Linked DNA regions of Homo sapiens. Each later gene encodes a partner of the first gene's protein in a complex. Each region holds a gene or a part of one and is shown on either strand. Other genes may lie near its edges.

Region 1 (7,800 bases):
GAGGGGGACATGGGGCAAGGCAGGGAAGGGGCAGGGCAGTCTTCTCGAAGGTGCTGTTTTGAGCGGAGTCTTGCAGAACGAGGAGTTCACCAGGCGGACAAGGAAATTCCAGGCAGAAGGAACAGCATGTCCAAAGGCATGGGCTCTCCTTAGACTGCAAGGCGCTGGGTGTGGCTGGAGCACAGGGCATGTGTGGGGGCGGGCAGGAGGAGAACACAGGGCGGGCAAGGCCCGTTGGTGAAGAGCCTCACACGCCACTCCCGCAGAGGTGGGGCTTTGTCCTGCAGGCCACAGGGCGTCCCGAAGGATTTGTGGAGTGGAGGGAAGTAGCCAGATGTGCGTTTTAGAAAGGTCCCTCTGGCTACATGTGGAAGAGAATGGCGTGGAGACGGGGAGACAGGGAGGAGGCTGTGGACAGAGTCGGGAGAAGATGATGGTGGCCAGACCAGAGCCCTGGCAGTAGCAACAGGGAGACAAAGCTAGAACCCTGGGAACAGGCTATGTGTTGAGGGAGGGAGAGGAAGAAACCAAGGACCCCCTGGTCCTGGCCTGAGCGCCGCTGTGGATGGCGCAGCCCTTCGCCAGAACAGGGTGCAACGAGCATGGGGAGAGGAGAGCAAGTGCCTCCTCCCCCACAACCAGATGCCCAAGGCCACGTGAGACACCCAGCGGGGAGCTCACACCCCAGGGCCCCTTCTCTGGACAAGTCACTCCCCCACCCACCTTTCAACTCAGGCAAGACAGCACTCACCTCCGCTCGCCAGGGGGTGGCTTCTTGGGGCTTGCAGGTTTGGGCAAGGCCTGAGGGCCAGGCTTAGCAGGGGAAGGGGAGGAAGACGACGAGGAGGAGGAAGATGAGGAGGAAGAAGAAGAAGAGGAAGAGGAGGAGGAAGAAGAGGAGGAGGAGGAGGAGGAGGAAGATGAAGAGGAGGAGCTGGAACTGGAACTGCTAGAGCGCCTCTTCCGTTTGGCTGGGGTTGGCTCCGGAGGACGTCCCTCTCGAACAGCCTCCTTTGGGGCTGGGGTGGGGCTGGGGACCCTGTGGGAGGAGAGGAGTGTCACAAGGAGACAAGCTGCCCCAGCCCCAACCCTACCTTCCTTGGCCTGGAGGAACGGCAGTGGGGGGAGGGGTGCCTGAGAAAGGCGCTGGGAGCTCTCCGAGCCACGTGAGCCAGCAATTCTCTGGAGAGCAGTGGTGCGAGCTGACCCAACCTCTGCTAACAGAAGCAACAGGCTGGGGCCCGCAGCATAAGGGATCAAGGTTAAACCTCAAGAATGTCCCTGATGGAGGAATAAGGCCTCTGGGCTCAGGTGTGGAAGCTGAAGCTGGGTAGTCTCCTTCCTCGGAGAGCCGCAGCTTGGGGAGGCCCCTGTGAGTGCAGGTTGGCTGGGGAAGGGGCCGTCCTGCCTGGAGGCAGGGAGAGGGATGGGATGACCTCTGAAGATCCTTCCAGCCCAGGGAGTTCCTCTTGAGGTCTAACTGCCATCCCTCCTGCTGTAAAATTAAGTCCATTTCCTCTAGTTCTGTCCTCTGTAGAGACGGAAAACTTATCATTATCCTCTAGAGAATGAACCTTCGGAGACTTTTATCTGTCCCATTCCTCCTCCCTCCGCCCCCTGCCCCAGCATTCTCTTCTACCCCCAGCTTGAGGGTCAAGGTCCCCATACCTCCTCCAAGAGCCAAGCACCTGTGACATGGTTTCTCCCTCCCCACTCCCCAACCCATCCCCAATACCTCCCCCACTGAAGATTTCTAAAAGTCAAGCTCCCTCACCTCTTCAGTGCCACCTCAGGTTGCACAGGAAGGCTAGAGCCCTCTGAGTCACTAGAACTGGAGCCAGAGGAGGAGGAGGACGACGACGACGATGATGAAGAAGAGGAGGAGCTAGAGGACGACGACGACGAGGAGGAACTCCGCCGCTCCTTTGCTGGCTGCAGGGCGGCTAATGCAGAAGGCTGCTGGGCCCCAGTAGAGGCAGGTGGCTCCCCCACATCAGAGTGGGGCACCCCAGGGGCAGGGACAGAGAGCATGCCATTGTGATCACCAGCAGAGGACGTGGTCGTTGCCACTGCCCCAGAGGAAAGGGACTGAGACCCTGCTACAGGGGTGGTCTGGGCAATCAAACAACGGGATTGGTCTGAAAAAGCAGAAGGCACAGGAGACCTCGGCTGATCCTGTGCTGGAGGGAGAAGAGACTGTGAAGGAGCCTGGCCCATTCTAGAGGAAGGGGAGGGAGCCCGTTCAGAGGTCATCCTAGATTGGCTTGGGGCAGACGGTGGTGTTCTGGACCTAGCTCGGTCAAGGAGCGGTGGTGAGGTTCTGCCACTGACACGCTCGTAGGCAGAAAGGGGCACCCTGGGGCTGGTGAGGTTTGCACCAGACAATGCTGGAGCCATCCTAGCACTGGTGAGGCTCGCGGGGGCCAAGGCTGCGGCGGTTCTGGAGCCGGCAATATTCACAGGAGCTGTGGCATGTGCAGACCGAGGACCCACCAGGTTTGCAGAGGCTGGAGCCTGTGGTGTTCTGGAGCTGGAGGGATAGTTTGCAGCAGTTGGTGGTGTGCCAGAGCCTGTGAGACTCAGAGCTGCCAAGGCAGCTGGGGTTCTGGCCCCTGCTAGGTTCACAGCTGGGGCTGTGGGAGTGCGAGGGTCAGCCAGGTTCACAGCCGAAGGTGCCACCGCTGTTCTGGGGCTGGCCAAGTTCATGGCCGCTGCTGCAGCTGGCGTTCGAGAGTCAGCCAGGTTCACTGCTGTTGGAATGGCAGGTGTCCTGGCGCTGGCTAGGTTCATGGCTGCCGCAGAGGCTGCAGGAATCCTGCTGGCAAGGTTGGCTGCTGGTGCGGTTCTGAGACTCATGAGAGGCACCGGGGCTGGAACCTGGGACATTCTTGCAGCAAGGCCAGCAGCAGACATGGACGGAGGAGGCCGAGCGGTGCCAAGACTGATAGCTGTCAGGGCAAGTGCAATCCTGGACTGAGCATGATTTTCTGGCACAGATGTTCTCTGGTGGTCAGGTATTCGGGGACCTGGACCATCCATCATGGAGCCGCCGGCTTGCTGCAGGACAGACATGGGTGTTCTAGAGCTGCCAAGGGGTTCAAGCATTCCAGGTGATCTGCAGCGATCAAGAGGTGTTGGGGACATGCTAGGACGACTGAAGCAGCTCATTCTGGAACTGTTGAGTGCTACTGGAGGTGTCCGTGAACCAGAATGATTTCTTGTTGCTGGAGGAGTAGCAGATCGTGAACGATCAGAACTACTTCCAGATGCAGAACGCCTGCGGATGGCTGGAGGAGATCTTGTTAAGGACCGTTTACCCCGAGCTGTTCGTGGAGTACGGGATCTGGAGCGGCGGCGGATAGCAAGTGGTGAGCGACTTCGAGAACGTTTGCGTGGTAACAGTGGCGTTCGAGATCTAGAGCGGCGCCGAATAGCTGGAGGTGTCCGGGACCTAGAGCGGCGGCGTGTCACTGGTGAGGTTCGAGAGCGGGACCTTCTTCGAGTTACTGGAGATGTGCGAGATCGAGATCTCCTTCGGGTGACCGGAGATGTTCTGGATCTTGATCTTCTGCGAGTGATAGGCGAAGTTCTGCTTCGAGATCGCCTCCTGGTTACTGGTGGAGTCCTGGATCTGGACCTTCTGCGAGTCACTGGTGGAGTTCTAGAACGGGAGCGGCGGCGTGTTGTTGGCGTTCTAGACCTTGAACGACGGCGGGTTACTGGTGGCGTTCTGGATCTGGATCGCCTTCTGCTCACTGGGGATGCTCTTGACCGGGATCTTCGTCGAGTCACTGAAGTCCTGGACCTTGACCGTCTCCGGCTGACTGGTGAAGTTCGAGATCTGGACCTACGTCGGCTTATCAGGGGGGTTCTGGACCTGGATCGCCGGTGAGTGGCTGGAGAGGCTCGAGATCTAGAGCGTTTCCACGGGGCTGGTGATGTGCGTGAGCGAGAACGCTTCCGACTGGTTGGGGGTGTCCGAGAGCGGCCTCTTCGGCGTCGAGAGGAGGTCCGGGAACTTTCCTGCCGGGCAGGTGACCTTGAGTGATAACCAGAGCCTCCCCTCCGCCGCCGAGTAACCCGCGACCTTGACCGGCTCCGCTGTCTTCGCCGAGAGGTTGACTGAGAAGATCCAGACCTATCTCGACGTCGGGTTGTTCTTGTTTTCTCTCTCCTTGAGCGGGAACGGGACCTCTGGAGTCCACGAGGCTTTGGCGAAGGAGAGCGGCCTCTCCTTGAGGTTGTCTTAGTGCGTGGAGATGAAGCTGAGCGCCGTCGGCGTGAAGACCTCGATTTTTCGGCTGGCTCCGGGGAAGACACTGAGGGACTTCTCCGGTGCCTTGGGGGAGTTCTAGAGCGAGTTTCTGGTGAGGATGAGGCAGAGCGGCTTCTACGGGACAGTCTGGCCTTCCTTGTTAGCTCCGGAGATGATCGAGAGCTGCGACGTCGAGGTGGTGTACGAGACTTGGTCTTGGGCTCTGGTGATGACCTGGAACCTCTGCGAGCAGTTCTGGATTTGGGCGGATGTTCAGGAGAGGACTCGGTACTGCTGCTTCCTTCAGGAGAAGGGCCTCTGCCTTTGCTTGATGAACCTGATCTGCTTCGTCTGGGAAGGGCCCGAGGGGCTGGAGCTTTAGGTTCAGGAGAGGAATCAGAACCACTCTGTGCCCTGGGTGCTGCTCTTGGCTTATCTTTCACTTCAGGGGAGGAACCAGACCTACTGCGCCGAGGGGATAGTCGAGATTTGCTGTCAACCTCTGGAGATGATCCAGACCGACTCCTCTGCCGAAGTGGGGTTCTTGTCTTGGCTTTAGAATCTGGAGAAGAGTCTGACTCACTTCTTTCCTGAGGGGATGCACTGGGTTTCACATCAAGTTCTTGAGAGGATCCCGAACGACTTCTCTGCCCCAGGGGAGTCCGAGCCACAGTTTTCTGATCAACTGATGATTCTGACCCGCTTCTTTCTCTCTGGGGGGTAAGACACTTGTTGTTGAGCTCTGGGGATGATGGAGAACGACTCCTCGGCCTAGGAGTCTGAGGCAAAGCTTTCGGTTCTGGGGAAGAATCACATTCGCTTCTCCCTCTAGATGGCGTTCTAGGTATATCTTTCATTCCAGGAGAGGACCCAGACAGGCTGTGCCTCGAGGGAGTCCCAGACCCATCTCTAAGTCCTGGAGAAGACCCAGACCTGCTTCTCCTTGATGGAGTTCTGGGTAAACCATCTTTCATTTCAGGAGAAGATGCAGAACTACTTCTTTCTCTCGAGGGTGTTCTGGGTACAGCATCAAGCACAGGTGAAGAGATGCTCTGATTTGAAGACATCCCTGCCTTTTCCACTGCATCTGGGGATAACTCAGAACTGCTGTGTCCAGAGGATCTTGTCGATTGTTCTTTCATGTCTAGAGATGGATCTGTTTCCAGCTGATTAAGAAACGGTCCATTCAAATCTTCTTTAACCTCAGAAGAAAATCCAGTATTCATTTCTGTACCAAGTGGGCCTGAGTTTCTAAATTCTAAAGGTGATCCAAAGCTGTTCTCCCTGAGTGGGGAGTTAGACAGTTCTTTATGTTCTGGAGAAAAATGTGGCCCACCCCAAGATGAGGCCATTGAAGGGACTTCTACTGCTTCCAAAGAAGCCTGTGACTGGCTCTGATCAAGAGTCAAAGACACAGCAGGCCTTTCTTCTACTTCAGGAGATGATTCAAAGTTACTTGTGGACATTTCTTTAAGTTCTGAAGACAAATGAGACAGGATTTGGCCTGCGGGTTCTTCAGACTTCTCTACCACCTCCATTAACTCTTCATCTTGGCTTGACGTAGGCAATGCACTATTTTGCTCTTTTGTTTCTGGAGATGACCCAGCACCACTTCTTTCCCTTGGCGGGGTTCTAAGTGTGTCTTTGAATACCAGTGAAGACTCAGGCCTATCCTGTACTGGAAAGGGACTAAATTTGTCTTTCTGTCTAGGAGGTGATGCAGTAGCATCCTCCTGAGGGGGTAAGGCCATTTTCTCTTTTGATTCAGCAGTCTCCAATCTACTCTGCCCCAAGAGAGAATTCGAGTCCACTGTAGGATATGAAGAAGAGTCAGACTGGAACCTGCTCTGCTCAGGAGACATTCCAGATTTCAACATAGGACTCGCTGAGAACTCACCTCTATCTTGTCTTATTGGAGATCTGGATGCCAGCTCAGTGACTGGAGATGAAGACCTGGACCGACCTCCCTTAGGTGATGTTTGAGATTTGCTCTGCAGAGATGGTGATTCTGAATGACTCTGTCTCACTTCTGGACTTGAAGTATCAGATCTGTGGTCTGGTGAAGTTTGAGATTGTCCTTTCAGTTGCAGAGATGAGACACCAAAATAGCTCTCGCCTGGTGGTGTGCTAGATTTTACTCCTGCACAGAGAGAGAGGGATCCAGGGCAACTTTGAACTAGTGAGTCTTTAGACTTCTCTTGGGGACATGGTGACTTTGATCCAGAAAGACTTGGCCCCGGTGGAGTTTGGGCCTTTACTTTGGGGTATGGTGAAATAGACCCTGAGTGACTTTGTCTTGGCGGTGTTTCAGGTTTCACTTTGGTATCTGGTGAGGAGGACCCAGAATGACTGTATCTTGGCAACAATCTGGATTCCACATTGGAGCAGGGAGATACTGATCTGCTTCGCCGTGGAGTTGTTCTCGACGTCACCCTACTAGGACTTGGAGAAGAGGAGCCAGAATGGCTTCTTTGTCTTGGTGATATTATTGCCTTCACTTTGGGTTGTGGAGATGATGACCTAGATGGGCTCTGTCTGGGAGGTGTGCTAGATTTCACTCTAGGAGGAGAGGACCCTGAGCAGCTATGTCTAGAAGGGGTCCTAGATTTCAACTCAGGGTCAGGTGATGATTCAAAACAGCTCCGTCTCTGTGGCGTTACAGATTGCTCATTGGCCTGGGGACTTGTTATGGACCCTTGCCTCGGTGGTGTTCCAGATTTCACTTTAGGATGAGGAGATGAACTGGAATGACTTTGTCTTGATGGTGTCTTAGATTTCTGTTTAGGTGGCGGAGAAGAACTGGAGCGACTGCGTCTGGGTGGCGTTCTAGATTTAGCTTTAGGTTGGGAGGATCCAGAGCGACTGCGCCTGGGTGGTGTCTGTGACTTTTGTTTAGGGCATGGGGAAGACCCTGAAAGGCTGCGCCTCAAAGACAAGCGAGATTTTGCTTTGGACCGTGGTGAAGAGAGAGACCTGCTCCGCCTTGAAGAAATGCGAGATTTCTTCATTTCTGGGCTTGAATTGGACCTGCTTCTTCTTTGAGATGTTCTGGATTTGTTTTTCCGCTCTGAAGATGAGCCAGATCTGCCTCTTCTTTGAGGTGTTCTAGAGTGAGATCTTCCACGTCTAACTAAGCTTCTACTGCGGGATCTTCCTCGTCTTGGTGTCCTAGACCGAGACCTCCCTCTCCTGGCTGGTGTTCTGGAGCGTGAGCGACCACTGCGTCTAGCTGGGGTTCTAGAGCGTGAGCGGCCACGTCTGGCTGGGGTTCTGGAGCGTGAGCGGCCACGTCTAGCTGGGGTTCTAGAGCGTGACCTGCCACTTCTCCTGGCTGGTGATCTACTACGAGACCTGCGTCGTACTGGTGATCGGGTCCTAGATCTGCGCCTAGCAGGTGTTCTAGACCGAGACCTGCCCCTCCGGGCTGGTGTTCTAGACCGAGACCTACGCCTGGTGGGAGTTCTGGATCGTGATCTCCGCCTGGCAGGTGTTCTAGAGCGGGACCTGCCCCGGCGGGCTGGTGTTCTAGAACGAGATCTACCCCT
Region 2 (8,035 bases), on another chromosome or scaffold:
CTAGCTCACAGCTCGAGCTCCTTAAATGTTGTAGGAGAAATAAATACACTCTTCCCCAGCACTCACCATCTTTATTTCACTACAGCCTTCTTATCTTTTCTTAAACAAGCCATCTCAGGATCTTTACATTGGCTATTCCTTCTGCCATCAAATCAATCTAATCATCTATCTATCTATCTATCTATCTATCTATCTATCGCAATCAATCAATCACAATTTTTCTCTATTGCAATCAATCAATCACAATTTTTCTCTATCTATCTATCTATTGCAATCAATCACAATTTTTCCGGCTGGGCGAGGTGGCTCACACCTGTAATTCCAACACTTTGGGAGGCCAAGGCAGGTGGATTACTTGAGGCCAGGAGTTCGAGACCAGCCATGCCAATATAGTGAAACCCTGTCTCTATTAAAAACACAAAAATTAGCCGGGCGTGGTGGCGGACGCCTGTAATCCCAGCTGAGGCAGGAAAATCACTTGAACCTGGGAGGTGGAGTTTGTAGTGAGCTGAGATTGCTCCACTGCACTCCAGCCTGGGTGAGAGTGAGACTCTGCCACAAAAAAAAAAAAAAAAAAAAAGAACAAATTTTCGTATGCTTTTATAGAAAATTCTTCTCCAGATCTCCAGATCTTTTCTTTTTTGATTGCTCCTTGCTGGGCAGGGCTATCCCACAGGCAGTATGCCTAGAGTAGCCCCAGATCTTTCAACAGCTTGCATCTCAGCACTCTTGTCTCTGCTCAGTTACCTCTCTCTAGAGCTGTTTTCTGACCACCTTACCCAAAATAGCCACTTCACCCCAAACTCTGAGTCACTCTCTAACCCGGTCTTTATTTTATTCCTAGCATGTATTACGTGAAATTGCATTATGATTTTACTCACTCTGTCCCATTAGAATGTAAGCTAATTAGAATTCTGTCCCACTAGAATTCCAATTCTGTCCCATTAGAGTGTAAGCTCCATGTGGATAGAGTATAAAATTAAAACAAACTCAGTTTCTCCTATTATTTCACTCAACAATCAACAACACACAACACTTCTGATACCAGATGTGTGATGGTTTTTCCCCACATATCAAGCAAGCTATCAACTGTGTCTACTGGACACCAGTCAAGTGTCCTCTAATTCAATTCAATTTTGATGTTATCTACCTGGAGATACTGTCAGATGTTACAGGTTGAAGGCTCAGTCCCACAAGACTGCCCTTACTTCAGATGCCAACAGTAGGTCCAAGGCCACTGGCCAACTAACTACAAACCAGGGTTCCCATGACCTCATCTTCAGGTTCAACTAATTTGCTAGGGCAGCTCACAGAACTCAGGGAAATGTGTTTACTGATTTAAAGGATATTACAAAGAATACTGAGGAACACCAGATGGTAGGTATGGAAAGCTCTGGAGTCCTCAAGACTGGCCATTTAAAGATCGCATTCTGCCACTGCAATTTTAAGCACGCAATACCCATGACAGGCCAGATGATGTGGTGGCTCACGCCAGTAATGCCAGCACTGTGGGAGGCTGAGATGGGTAGATCAGATCAGTTAAGCCCAGTTCAAGACCAGGCTGGGCAACATGGCAAAACCCCATCTCTACTAAAAAAAACAAAAATTAACTGGGCATCATGGCAAGCGTCTAGAGTCCCAGCTACTCTAGGGCGCTGAGGCAGGAGGATCACCTGAGCCTTGGGAGGTTGAGGCTGCAGTGGGCTGTGATTGGGCCACTGCACTCCAGCCTGGGCAAGAGTGAGACCCTATATCAAAAAATAAAATAAATAAAAAATACCCATGACATCTCTAGAAATTTTTCCTGTGTGTCCATTTCAAATTCCACCTTTTCCACAAAGTCTCCCCTCATAACTTTACTAGTCTATGACACAGTGTCTCACACCTGGGGAGCACTCAAATGTTTGCTGCCTGTAACATTTACTAAACAAACTCTTGGCTGGGCATGGTAGCTCATGCCTGCAATCCCAGCACTTTGGGAGGCCTAGGTGAGAAGATTGATGGAGGCCAAGAGTTGGAGACCACTCTGGCCAACGCAGTAACACCCTATTTCTAGTTTTTTTTTAAAAAAATTTCAGATGCCGGGCATGGTGGCTCATGCCTGTAATCCTAGCACTTTCGGAGGCCGAGACAGGAGGACTGCTTGAGGCCAAGAATTCAAGACCAACCTGGCCAACACAGCGAGACCGCATCTCAAAAAATAAAGTTAAAAAAAAAAGCAAAAAAATTTTAGAAACGAGGGTGGGGAGAAAACTCTCCAGCCCACATAACTTATTCCATTCAATTCTTTTTGCACTAAGGTTAGTATTACACAAATGCACATTTTGTGTTCTGTAATTGTTTTATGTCTGTATACCTTGCACCCCTATCTTCCCTGTTGCCAAAGACAGATTTTCTTCTGTGTACACAACCCCCAGGACAGAGCAAGGCACCAACAGTAATTCCCAAAATAATTTTTTGATTAAAACTTTTGGAGTCATACTGTCATCAGCCAGAAAAAAAAACATGCGTGAGGAGAATGAAGGGTGTTAAAAGAGCTCAAGCTGATGTCCTGAAAGGATTACTTTATCTATAACCTTCCTGAACACTAGCCTTTTCCTGTTGAGTTCGCATGGAAAGTTTTTCCACTTAAAATGGGGCAGCAAGGCTGGGAACTAGTAGGAGTAGCGTAACTTCTCGGACTCTCCCACTGAAAAGCATCTTTTTCTTAAAGGCGGAGAGCACTTTACAGACGGTTACTAAGGTAACCGGAAACAGCAAAACTGAGGTGGTTCTATCTACGGAAGAAATTCTAAGCTCCAAAGTTAAAATGCGGAGCAGTGGCGCATATCAGCAGACGGCGGTCACTACTGTGGCTCATTTAAATCTGTGTTCAGCTCCGGGCCTCTTTTTTCAGGAATCCTTGTTTCGGGACACCCAGTGGACAGCGAAAGGAGAGAGACCACCACAGGCAAACGGCCGGAAAGCCGCGCAGTCGCAGCCCGCGCGCTTCACTCCGCCCAAATAAGCCACTACCGTCACCAACCCCATCTCGTTCGCCCGAGCCGCGGACCTGAGGGAGCGCTGTCCGCTCCCCGCAAGATGCTCACGCGAAAAACCCACTCTTCAGTGTCTGAGACCACTCCGCAGCTTTCGGCCTCGGTGAGCGGGTGAACTAAACCCGGGAAACCGCTGAAAGACCCCAGCTTCGACTAGGCCTAGTCGTAGCGGCGGCCAGCGGGAGGGCGTAGCCGTAGTCTTGGCCCACGTCATTCTGTGCCCCGGGTCAGGTCACCGCCCGGAGGGTATGGGAAGAGAAATGAAGAAGACTGGTACTCCCAGACCCTTCCGTATCGAGGACCCCAATCAACAACCCACCTGGTGAGCGCCATCTTCTTCCGCTTCTTCCAGCGCGAGCGACAGCACCGCTGGGCGGGTCTTTCCAGATGATGAGGAGCGGAAAGGAAGGAGTGCGCGATGCGCAGGCGCTCTGGCCGAAAAGGCCTTCTGGGATTTGTAGTTCTTTGAACAGGAGTACCGTTTGTATTCTGACCAGACCAAGCGGTTATCAAGGAATAATCTCTTCAGCTAGCAACAAATGCATAACTCGATCGCTTATATGCGACATGATAGGGCGTTCCCTAGGCAAAATATCAAAGATACAGGGAGATGCCTTTTAGGCCGCTTTATTACGTTCCTTACTCAGTCCCGTTCCCCGAGAAGGGGTACAAAATACAAAAGCTTCCCGGGGACAGCTACTTTAAGTAAGAGTGATAGGGCGTTTAAAACGACAGGTAATAATGAGACTAGCTAATGGAGAGTCCTTGGACTCTCTGAAAACATTCACACTCAAAACTTTTCTTTAAACCATATCCTCTCACCCGCCAAAACACTCTCTTGGGGAGATATTTCGTAATCCTTGGTAATTTACCGAGTGTCTGGGTTCTCTGCCCAGGGTATGACAAGGCTGAAATCTCATAGGAGGCTCTGGAGAAAAATCCATCTCCTAACTCATTCTTGTTGGCAAAAATCAGTTCCTGGCGGTTGTGGGATCGAGTTCCCTGTTTTGTTTTGTGCTGTTAGTGGTGGCCACCCTCAGCTCCTAGGGGTCACTCTCGAGTCCTTCCCACATGAGCCCTATTTATTGGTAGTTCACAACATGGATATTTGCTTTCTGAGGCACATCTTTCTGACTCCTCTTCTGCCACTGTTGGAGAAAAATGCCCTGCTTTTAAAGGGCTCATGTGATTAGATCAGGAGCACCTGGATAATCTCCCTATTTTAAGATCAACTCTTGGCCGGGCGCAGTAGCTCACACTTGTAATCCTAGCACTTTGGGAGGTCGGGGCGGGCGGATTGCCTGAGCTCAGGAGTTCGACAAAGCCTGGGCAACATGGTGAAACCCTGTCTCTACTAAAAATACAAAAATTAGCTGGGCGTTGTGGCGCGCTCCTGTAGTCCTAGCTACTGGGGAGGCTGAGGCAGGAGAATCGTGTGAATCAGGAGACGGAGGTTGCAGTGAGCCAAGATCACGCCACTGCACTCCAGCCTGGCGACAGAGTGAGACTGCGTCTCAAAAAATAAAAATAAATAAATAAATAAATAAATAAATAATATAAAAGAATAGCTGGGTGTGGTGATGTGCTCTTGTTTTCTCAGCTACTTGGGAGGCTGAGGTACAAGAATCGCTTGAACCCAGGAGGTGGAGGTTGCAGTGAGCCGAGATTGCACCATTGCACTCCAGCGTGGGTGACAAAGTAAAATTCTGTCTCAAAAAAAAAAAAAAAATCAACTCTGCCACACCGCATAACAGAATCAGAATCTTCATAGTCATGGCCCCAGGGGTTATGTAGGTCAGGTACTGTGGGGGTTGGGTGAGGAGGAGATCTTGGGGGATATCCTAGAATTCTGCCTGCCACAGCATGTAAACCAAAAAAACAAAAAGAAAAAATCTTTTGGTAAATACAGGATTGTTAATCACATTGTGTAATATAACCTGCATGGCCTGGGAGCCCGAAGATTAGAGTTTAAGATGTAGCTTTGGCTGGGTGTGGTGGCTTGTGCCTTTAATCCCAGCACTTTGGGAGGCTGAGGCGGGCAGATCACCTGAGGTCGGGAGTTTGAGACCAGCCTGACCAACATGGAGAAACTGCGTCTCTACTGAAAATACAAAATTAGCCGGGCGTGGTGGTGCTTGCCTGTAATCCCAGCTACTCGGGAGGCCGAGGCAGGAGAATCGCTTGAACTCGGGAGGCGGAAGTTGTGGTGAGCCGAGATCGTGCGTCGTTGCACTCTAGCCTGAGCAACAAGAGTGAAACTGTCTCAGAAAAAAAAAAAAAAAAAAAAAAGATGTAGCTTCAGCACCAATAAATTCTTATAGGGCAAGTCATTTAATTTATTTGGGCCCCAGTTTTATTGAACTTAAAATGCTGATCATGTTATCTGCTTTACCTATATTTATATAAATGTAAAATAATTATATACAATACAGCAGAGTATGAGCCTTAAATGAGGTAATGTAGGTGGATATGTTTTTACTTAACTCTTAAGTACTATGTAAATATGTTAGTTATTACAGTTAATATTTTGGTTGACAGTGATCTACTTCAACCTCTGCTCCAGGAATGTATTATTTCTAAAAGGAGAAAAACAGAGAAGCAAATTATAGAACGTCCTGGAAGCCAAGATCAAGGAGCTTAGATTTAGTTCAGCAGGTGATTTGCAGCTGAAGGAGGACTTAAGTAGAGGGCCTGGGTCAAAGGAACAGGCAAGAAAGACAATTCTTAAGGCAGAATGGGTTTCTATGGCAATGAGAGACAAAGGAGGCTACTGAGGACAAGGTTAAAATAATTAACATGGGAAATCAGTAAGACATAGACCAAGACCTGGGATGCAGGATTGAAAGAACAGGGTGGAGAAGAGCTTTTGCAATCCACTCTCATTTTCCACAGAGGCACATCATGCAAGGCATTTCCACCAGTCATAGTCCCTCGCTGTTTTGGGGGTGTGTAAAGAATAGAAACTGACTTTAATAGCAATCCTATCAAAACAATTAAGAAAGCAAATCTACTGCAAACGTGATACAATATTATACCCAAAGGCCTAGTGCTTTCTTTGGTTTTGTTGGGGAGGGGGTTTGGTGTTAAGCTATGCTGAATCTTCAGTGCCTATCCATCCCTCATTATCATAGGTAATTAGCAGCTGCCTGCTCATGTAGAGAGCCCAGTGCATGCTGGAATCAGTAATGCGCCAGGTTGCAAGAAGCAATCAATTCACTCCAGTCTTAGAATTCTGGATAGAGAGTAGAATTGTTCTCAGAGAACCTAGGGCCTAATTTGATTCCTAAGTAGGTGTGGCTATGTAGCCACAAGTAATATAGCTTGTGAGGTGGTAGGGAGGACAAGTTAAGCACATATTCTGGAGTCAGCTTTCCTGCCTTCTGATCCCAGCTCCCTAATTTATGAGCTGTAGATTCTGGATAAGTCACTTCTCTCTGTCTCAGTTTTCTCACTGGCCAATAAAAAGGGTGAGGGGCGTGGAATCAGTATAACTTATCCTCAATAAAGCTATTGGGAGGATTAAATGAGTTAATCATGTGAAGTGCTTAGAAAAATGCCCAGCATAGAGTAAGCGCTCAAAAATTAATTATGCTTTCTGGCTTTAATGAATTGGCCTTAATTTATTAAGGTTCAGGTTTTGCATCTGCAAAGTGAGGCAGTTGAACTCAATTTTATTTCTGGGGTACCTTCCCACTAACATTTTCTACTATAGGATGTTTTTTTAAATTTACTTCAATGCCAGTATTTTATGCTCTGATGCCATTATGCTTTAGTTATTATGGCTATATTATTATAATCATTCTCTGATAAAAAGTAGAGCTGCTCCACCACACCGTTCTTACTTTTTGGATGTGTTTTACGTGCCCTCTCAATGTTTAAAATTTTTTTTTAATTAAAATATTGGTTTGCATTAAAGCATAGTTAAAAAGGCTAGAGCCAATGATTACTTAGGAACTGCGAAAGAAATAACGTATCTTTACGATGGAGAGATTTGGCTGTCATCACTTTTGCTTCACTAACAGTGGAACAATCTGACACTAGGTGCTTTTAATAGGAAGTTCCCCAGTTTTCTTTCTTTCTTTCTTTCTTTCTTTCTTTCTTTCTTTTTTTTTTAGACCGAGTCTTCCTCCGTTGCCCAGGGTGGAGTGCAGTGGTGCGATTTCGGCTTACTGCAACCTCTGCCTCCCTAGTTCAAGCGATTCTCCTGCCTCAGCCTCCCGAGTAGCTGGGATTACAGGCATGAGCAAGCACGCCTGGCTAATTTTTGCATTTTTAGTAGAGATGGGGTTTCACCATGTTGGCCAGGCTAGTCTTGAACTCCTGGCCTCAAGTGATCCACCCACCTTGGCATCCCAAAGTGCTGGGATTACGGGTATGAGCCACTGCACCTGGCCGGAAGTTCACCAATTTTCTGATCAAACCAGACCTAATGTCCAGTTCACAAGAAATTCAGGGGATAGAGTAACAAGTTTAAAAGCATGAGGAAACAATCAGTAAAATCCAGAATGTGAGACATTCTACAAGACAACTGACTGAGACTCTACAAAATGTCAATGTCATGGAATGGATGTGAATAGAATAGATGAAAACAGATTGATGAGACATGACACATAAAATTAGTAAACCTTGATGGGATTCTGGTTCAGTTGGGGAAAACTATAAAAAATATTCTTGGGACATTTGGAGAAAGTTGCATATGGAGTGATAATAGACAACATTGTAGAATTTTTGCTAAATTTCTTAGGAGTATTAATGACATTGTGGTTAAGTAGAAGAACGTTCTTATTCTTGGGAGATGCATGCCAGAGGATTTGGGGATGAAATGTGTCAACTTACTTTCTTCTTTTTTGTTTGTTTTTTGTTTTGAGACACAATTTTGCTCTTGTCACCCAGGCTGGAGTACAGTGACGCAGTCTTGGCTTACTGCAATCTCTGCCTCCCGGGTTCAAGTGATTCTCCTGCCTCAGTCTCCCAAGTAGCTGGGATTATGGGCGCCT
Region 3 (7,400 bases), on another chromosome or scaffold:
GCAACGTAGCAAGACCTCATCTCCACAAAAACTAAAAAAATTAGCATGGCATGCTAGTTCATGCCTGTAGTCCTGGCTACTCAGGAGGCTGAGGCAGGAGGATCACTTGAGCCAAGGAGTTTGAAGCTGCAGTGAACCATGATCACACTACTGCAGTCCAGCCTAGGTGACAGAGTGAGACCCTATCTCCAAAAAAAAGTTGGTCGTACAACAAGAGCTGAGAGAGTGAACAAGAGAGTCATTATAACAGGTAGATAATGGAAAGTTTCAGAGAGTGTCAAGTTGGAGGCATTCATATGAGAAGAGCTACCATTCTGTAAGTCAGATGAAACCCACTTAATCATTGTTTTCTTGGTCTTTTCCCTCCACTCCCCACCCCCTAATTTTGTAGCCTCCTTTGTCTGTATGCAGTAGTTACCTTGTGCTTCTCTTTTGTTTAGGGACCTCCAAGATGTTCCTCCCTTCAAGCCCCAATCATGCTGCTCTCTGGACATGAAGGGGAAGTCTACTGCTGCAAGTTCCACCCCAACGGATCCACCTTAGCATCTGCAGGATTTGACCGACTGATATGTGAGGCATAGTTTTTGAATCTGGAATAATTTTTCCTGCCAGATAGTGATTTTTTTTTTTAAATCTTGGGTGCCACAGAAGGTATCACTCTATGTTGGCAACATAACAGGCTGCATGGCTAATATGCTAAAATTGGGGCATGAACATGCTGAATGATCTTGGGTGTAGAACTTGGAGTCCATGGGGTAAATACAGAAGCCATTATTTTACTAGTTGGAAAGTGAGTTGTTCTGGTTTGAGAATGTCTTCCTCATAGAGGCAAATCTCCAGCTAATTTACCAAGGCACTTAGCAATCTAGACATAACAGGTTAATGGCAGTAATGAGGAGAGAAATAACTTTTATTTTCCCAAAGGTATAAGGTCCTCTTAATTCACACCCAGAATCCTAGCTAGCATATGGGAAGGAAGGAATCCTAAAGTGGTAACTCCCTTAAATAATCTACCTGTACATCATTAGGATCTACTACCAGATTTCCATTTTTGAGAAATAAGAATTTCTCATACCCATTTTTGAGAAGTAAGTAGAAAAAGTCGTTTTATTTATACTCCAGCAAATGAAGCCAGAAGGAAAAAAAATCAGATGCTTCTGTTGCTACTTTCTTGCCAGATTATGAGATGAAATGAGTTATTTGGCTCTTTTCTGTTAACTCTTTTCCTCGGTGCCGGGTGGATGATACCCGTCTTCACTGCCCATTTTGATTTGGATGTTCCGGCTCTATGATCCTTAAGCTTACTAGTGGCCAAACGTCTGGATTGCTTAGGGATCTTTGCAGAACATATATGAATTATTGATAGGCTTAATTTCATCAGACAAACTACATAGTTTTTTTTGTTTGGTTGGTCGGTTGGCTTTTTAGAGACGGAGTCTCACTCTGTCACCCAGGTTGGAGTGCCGTGGCGCGATCTCGGCTCACTGCATCCTCCGTCTCCTGGGTTCAAGTGATTCTCCTGCCTCAGTCTCCCAAGAGCTGGGATTGTAGGCGTCTGCCACTACACCTGGCTGATTTTTTTATTTTTATTAAAGATGGGGTTTCGCCGTATCAGCCACGCTGGTCTCGAACTCCTGACCTCAAGTGATCCACCCGTCTCGGCCTCCCAAAGTGCTGGGATTACAGGTGTGAGCCACCGTGCCTGACCTGAGAACTGTTGTTCTGATAAATTTATAAGTACCCTTTGCCTAGTAATGCTCACAGAACCCATCTCCCTAACAGTACTGTGGAATGTCTATGGTGACTGTGATAACTATGCCACACTGAAGGGACACAGTGGAGCAGTGATGGAATTGCATTACAACACAGATGGCAGGTGAGTATTCTGCATAATGGAAGGACAGCTTCTCATACTAATTCTTGGCGTCCTTTCACCTTTCATCCTTTCTCAGGAGACCCTGCTATCAAAAACTACTAATTTTGGGTAGCTACTTTAGTATCCGATTTATCACTGTCACCCCAAGTGAGGTGTTTATAGTCTGTGTATGCAAATATAAAGATGTTACATCGGTCATTTCAACAACCCAGACAAATTTTTCTTTTTTTAAGACATAAAATAAATGTGATTTTTATATGTAGGCTGGAGTGCAGTGACACAAACATGGCTCACTGCAGCCTCAACCTCTTGCTCGAGGGATCCTCCCACTTCAGCCTCCCAAATAGCTGGGGCCACAAGCCCACGCCTCCATGCCCAGCTAATTTTTAAAAATCATTTGTGGAGACATGGTCTTGCTATATTGCTCCTGAGCTCAAGCAGTCCACCTGCCTCAGCCTCCCAAAAATGCTGTGATTACAATAATTAACCACCATGCCTGGCCTGAAATCAGCTATTTCTATTATAAAAATCATTTCTTTTGAGAAACCAAAAAAAGCAGAAAGATGAAAAAATAGTCTATATTTCTACCACTCCAAAGATAATCAGTGTTAATTTTTTTTTTTTGAGACGGAATTTCACTCTTGTTGCCCAGGCTGGAGTGCAATGGCACGATCTCGGCTCACTGCAACCTCCGCCTCCCAGGTTCACGTGTTTCTCTTGCCTCAGCCTCCAGAATAGCTGGGATTACAGGGATGCATCACCGTGCCTGGCTAATTTTGTATTTTTTGTAGAGACTGGGTTTCTCCATGTTGGTCAGGCTGGTCTTGAACTCCCAACCGCAGGTGATCCGCCCACCTCAGCCTCCCAAAGTGCTGGGATTACAGGCATGAGCCACCGTGCCTGGCCAATCACTGTTAATTTTATACATTTTTCTAATGCCTTTTTTTCTACTCAGAACTGTTTAGTTGTTGCATATTTGTTAGAACTATGTGTACAATCTTTTTTATTTATTTATTTATTTTATTTTATTTTTTTGAGACGGAGTCTTGCTCTGTCGCCCAGTCTGGAGTGCAGTGGTGCGATCTCGGCTCACTGCAAGCTCCGTCTCCGGGGTTCACACCATTCTCCTGCCTCAGCCTCCTGAGTAGCTGGGATTACAGGTGCCCGCCACCATGCCCGGCTAATTTTTTTGTATTTTTAATAGAGATGGGGTTTCACCGTGTTAGCCAGGATGGTCTCGATCTCCTGACCTTGTGATCCGCCCGCCTTGGCCTCCCAAAATGCTGGGATTACAAGTGTGAGCCACCGCACCTGGCCAGAACTGTGTGTACAATCTTATTTGCTCCTTTTTTCTCTTAACATTGCTCAGCCAACATCTGATGTCATAAACGTCATTTTAATGACTATATTATTTTAGAATATATTATAGATAATATAGAAATCTGGCTATACAAAAGTAATTACATTGTTAGGTAGTCTGGTAAACATTCATTGTTTTACATTTCTGACCTCTAAAATCTTAGGGTGCTCCATCAATTGATACATAGCATTGTATACATTTTAAATAAAGCATTAGAAAGCTGGGCCTGGTGGCATGTGCTTATAATCCCAGCTATTTGGGAGGCTGAGGCAGGAGGATTCCTGGAGCCCAAGAGTTCAAAACCAGCCTGGGCAACACAGTGAGACTCCATCTCAAAAAAAATGAAAAAAGAAAGCATTATAAGATCAGTTATAACTTAGAAATCATCCTCAGAGGCTGGGCGTGGTTGCTTACGCCTATAACCCTAGCACTGTAGGAGGCTGAGGCAGGAAGATTGCTTGAGCCCAGTTCAAGACCAGCCTGGGCAACATAGTGAGACCTTGCCTCTACAAATGATTTTTAAAAATTAACTGAGCATGGTGGCACAGACCTGTGGTCCCAGCTACTCAGGAGGCTGAGGTGGGAGGATCACTTGAGCCCAGGAGGTCGAGGCTGCAGTGAGCCATGATTCCAACCCGGGTGACAGAGCAAGATCTCATCTCAAAAAAAAAATGAAAGAAAGAAATTGTCCTCAGAGACAAAAGAAAAACTTTGGTAAAGAGAAAAGATTGGAGTCACTCAGCTGTCAGGTCGGTACCACAGTCTGTCTGATCTCTGCAGCACCAGGGAGTTATTAAACATTTCCAAGTGAGAGGGTGTCTTATGTTTAAAATGTTAGCTATCACAAAAGAGGAAAAGATAGAGCAAACTGCTACATTAGATGTATGTCATGGGGACTCAAAGAAGGGGAATTTTTTAAACTTCACAGGGGTAGATCTTTTATCTGGGCCATCTGGGCCTAGAGGACAAATAGGATTTTGGTAGGGTGAGGCATTCCAGCATCATGGGCAAACTGGCGTAGCACAGCAGGTCAGTGATCTTGAAAAATTTGGCACCTTTTGTCAAGTAGGAAAGATAGATTGTTACTGTTTATCTTCACTTATTTCTTTTTTATTCTTTCTCTTACTTTCTAGTATGCTTTTCTCAGCATCCACAGATAAAACCGTGGCTGTGTGGGATAGTGAAACAGGTGAGAGGGTTAAAAGGCTAAAGGGACATACTTCCTTTGTGAATTCCTGTTATCCAGCCAGGAGAGGCCCTCAGCTTGTCTGCACTGGCAGTGACGATGGCACAGTTAAGGTGGGTATTGTCTCTCCGTGTTCCAGTTTCTGAGGTGATGTGATGTGAACCTTATCTTGCCTTGCCACTTGTACTCTAGCTTCCTGTGCAAAACTTAATTTTAGCAGTCATCTCCCATAACACACTTGAAATTTTTCCCCATTTAAAATAAAACATTTAATACAAGTTTTAATTACCCTACAGAATAATAATAGAACCATAGAATAAATTGTTACTTGAAATAGGCCGGGTGCTGTGGCTTACGCCTGTAATCCCAGCACTTTGGGAGGCCGAGGCGGGTGGATCACGAGGTCAAGAGATCAAGACCATCCTGGCTAACACGGTGAAACCCCGTCTCTACTAAAAATACAAAAAATAAGCCGGGCGTGATGGCGGGCACCTGTAGTTCCAGTTGCTTGGGAGGCTGAGGCAGGAGAATGGTGTGCACCCGGGAGGTGGAGCTTGCAGAGATTGCACCACTGCACTCCAGCCTGGGCGACAGAGCGAGACTCTGTCTCAAAAAAAAGAACTGTGACAGTAATATACGTGTCTTTCAAGGCTGTTATGAGTATCTCCACCAACAGGGAGGTAGCAAAAAAAAAAAAAAGGCTGTTCTGAGATTATAGACAATATATAAAAAGTTCAGTGAATAGTTTTAGTATGGCACAAGATGGGAACTTAAACATCGTTTAGTCAGATGGTTGCCAGCCTATCTTTATATCATCATCACCTGAAGAACCTGTTAAAAATACCCAAAGAATCTGGTTCAGTGGATCTGCAATGGGAATCAGATATTTTAATGTGTCCTTCAAGTGATTCAGTGTAGCCAGTCTCACATTCTGGGAGCCACTGATCTCACTGAGCATCCTCATTTTATAAATAAGGAAACTGAGGCCTAGAAATAATAATTTATCTCAGAGGCACACAAGGACACAGTACATCATAGTACCAACCATTTGATTCTCTCTTTGACACGAATTTTGGGCTCTGGTTTATATTTTAATTGTTAAACAGTGAGGGACTTCAAAAGAGTACATCTGGGAAACTACACCCCCATACTTCTTATTGCTTTTTAAATGAATTAATGAATTTGCTTTTTTTTTTTTTTCTTTGAGACAGGGTCTTGCTCTATCGCCCAGGCTGGAGTGCAGTGGCACAATCTTGGCTCACTGTAGCCTCCACCTCCCGGGTTCAAGTGATTCCCCAGCCTCAGCCTCTTGAGTAGCTGGGATTACAGGTGCACACCACCATACCTGCCTAATTTTTCTATTTTTGGTAGAGATGGGGTTTCACCATGTTGCCCAGGCTGGAGTGCAGTGGCGCAATCTCAGCTCACTGCAACCTCTACCTCCTGGGTTCAAGCAGTTCCCCTGCCTCAGCCTCCCTAGTAGCTGGGACTACAGGGACCCATACCACGCCCAGCTAGTTTTTGTATTTTCAGTAGAGGCAGGGGTTCATCATATTGGCCAGGCTGGTCTCAAACTCCTGACCTTGTGATCCGCCCCCCTCGGCCTCCCAAAGTGCTGGGATTACAGGCGTGAGCCACCACACTTGGCTGAGACGTTTTTCTACTGAGTGGTTTTCTTATACCTAATCACTTGGGGCCCCTTGATGGTTGGATGGGAGGAGAGTCTGTTGTTTAAGATTGGTTTCTAAACCAGAGCTCTGACCTAGATGTCACTGTAGTTGGAGAGTCTTAACAGTAGCTGATTTACTAATTGTCATTTCAGAAGATAGTAAGAGGTGGAAATGCCCCAGTGAATTTTGTTAACATTATTATTGAGGGCCTGCTGTAATAAATATCTAGGAACTATTTAGGTAGTAGAAAAAGAGTATATGTCCTTTCTGTCTGCCTTCTTTTGGTTTTTTGCTTCTCTTCTGCCTTAATTAAACATGATTTGGAATAGTTATTTTTACCTTATTACTCAAGTTAATACTTTTTTTAATAAGCAGTATGTCACATCACCTAAAGATGACTGCTTTTTAACCAGCTCCTATTTTTAATGTCAGTATATTTATATTTAAGGCATCATTAAACAGCTTTTTGCAATGTACTTTTCAGTTACTTGTGAAGTTGGAATGCTTTGTGTTCTTGTATTTTTGTTACTAGGTTGCAAGTACAGGAATTGAATAACTTCAGTTTAAGAGGAAAAAAAGTCATGTTGCTTTTTACATGTCAGAGTTCTTAACAGAAAGCAAAGGTTTCCAACAGCACTTGCATTTTTAGTCTAAAAGCATTCTGGGCATTATTCATACAGATCGTTTTCAAACTTTTTATCAAGTGCATTCTTCTAATAAAATTAAGTGAAATACTGCGTGTATGTGTGTATGTACTCATATATATATAAATTTCCCTTTCATGAGCAGTTCAGTCCTAAAGCCAGTTATATAGGCCAAAGCAGGGAAGGTGCTCTAGTTAGAGATGGGCCAAGGTGGCCCAGAGTAGAGTGTCAGAGCACAAGTGTGGTAAGGAGAGCATCCACACTGGGCAGGGCAGTACATTGTAGGGAGTAGTCAGAGAGTGAGGAAGGCATCCATACAACACAGGGTAGGTAACCAGTGTGGGGAATTTGAGGGTGAGGGAGGGGCAGCAGCCCAACAGTGCCCTAATGGGGTGAAAGGGTCGCCTGTACGTGAAGCAGTACGGGGAGAATGTGGATGTCAAAGCCTGAACTGAGGGCATCCACACAGGGTAGAAATGATTTGGTGTAGGGAGTCTGAGACTGAGCAAGATGATGACTGCATGCTTGGAGAAGTGCAGACTGGAAAAGAGCCGTAGCAGAGTGATGAGGGTGTTCACACAGAGGAATGACCCAAGTTGGTTAAGGAAGAGTCACACATGGCTTCAACCAAGAATGGGAATCACAATTCAAGTAGGGAAGGGTG

What was found.
Region 2: SRRM2 (region 1) and SNW1 share a complex: the UniProt entries of both Homo sapiens proteins name them as parts of the minor spliceosome.
Region 3: SRRM2 (region 1) and SNRNP40 share a complex: the UniProt entries of both Homo sapiens proteins name them as parts of the minor spliceosome.

What each region holds. Positions count from the first base shown.
Region 1 is NC_000016.10:2,762,236-2,770,035, reverse strand, and holds part of SRRM2 (serine/arginine repetitive matrix protein 2), read right to left. Parts: coding exon 1,775-7,800; intron 1,040-1,774; coding exon 752-1,039; intron 1-751. UniProt on the Homo sapiens protein: Required for pre-mRNA splicing as component of the spliceosome. As a component of the minor spliceosome, involved in the splicing of U12-type introns in pre-mRNAs.
Region 2 is NC_000014.9:77,757,757-77,765,791, forward strand, and holds the start of SNW1 (SNW domain-containing protein 1), read right to left. Parts: upstream 3,401-8,035; 5' UTR 3,372-3,400; coding exon 3,358-3,371; exon of another isoform or gene 3,012-3,357; intron 1-3,011. UniProt on the Homo sapiens protein: Involved in pre-mRNA splicing as component of the spliceosome. As a component of the minor spliceosome, involved in the splicing of U12-type introns in pre-mRNAs.
Region 3 is NC_000001.11:31,286,389-31,293,788, reverse strand, and holds part of SNRNP40 (U5 small nuclear ribonucleoprotein 40 kDa protein), read left to right. Parts: intron 1-440; coding exon 441-570; intron 571-1,782; coding exon 1,783-1,876; intron 1,877-4,369; coding exon 4,370-4,535; intron 4,536-7,400. UniProt on the Homo sapiens protein: Required for pre-mRNA splicing as component of the activated spliceosome. Component of the U5 small nuclear ribonucleoprotein (snRNP) complex and the U4/U6-U5 tri-snRNP complex, building blocks of the spliceosome.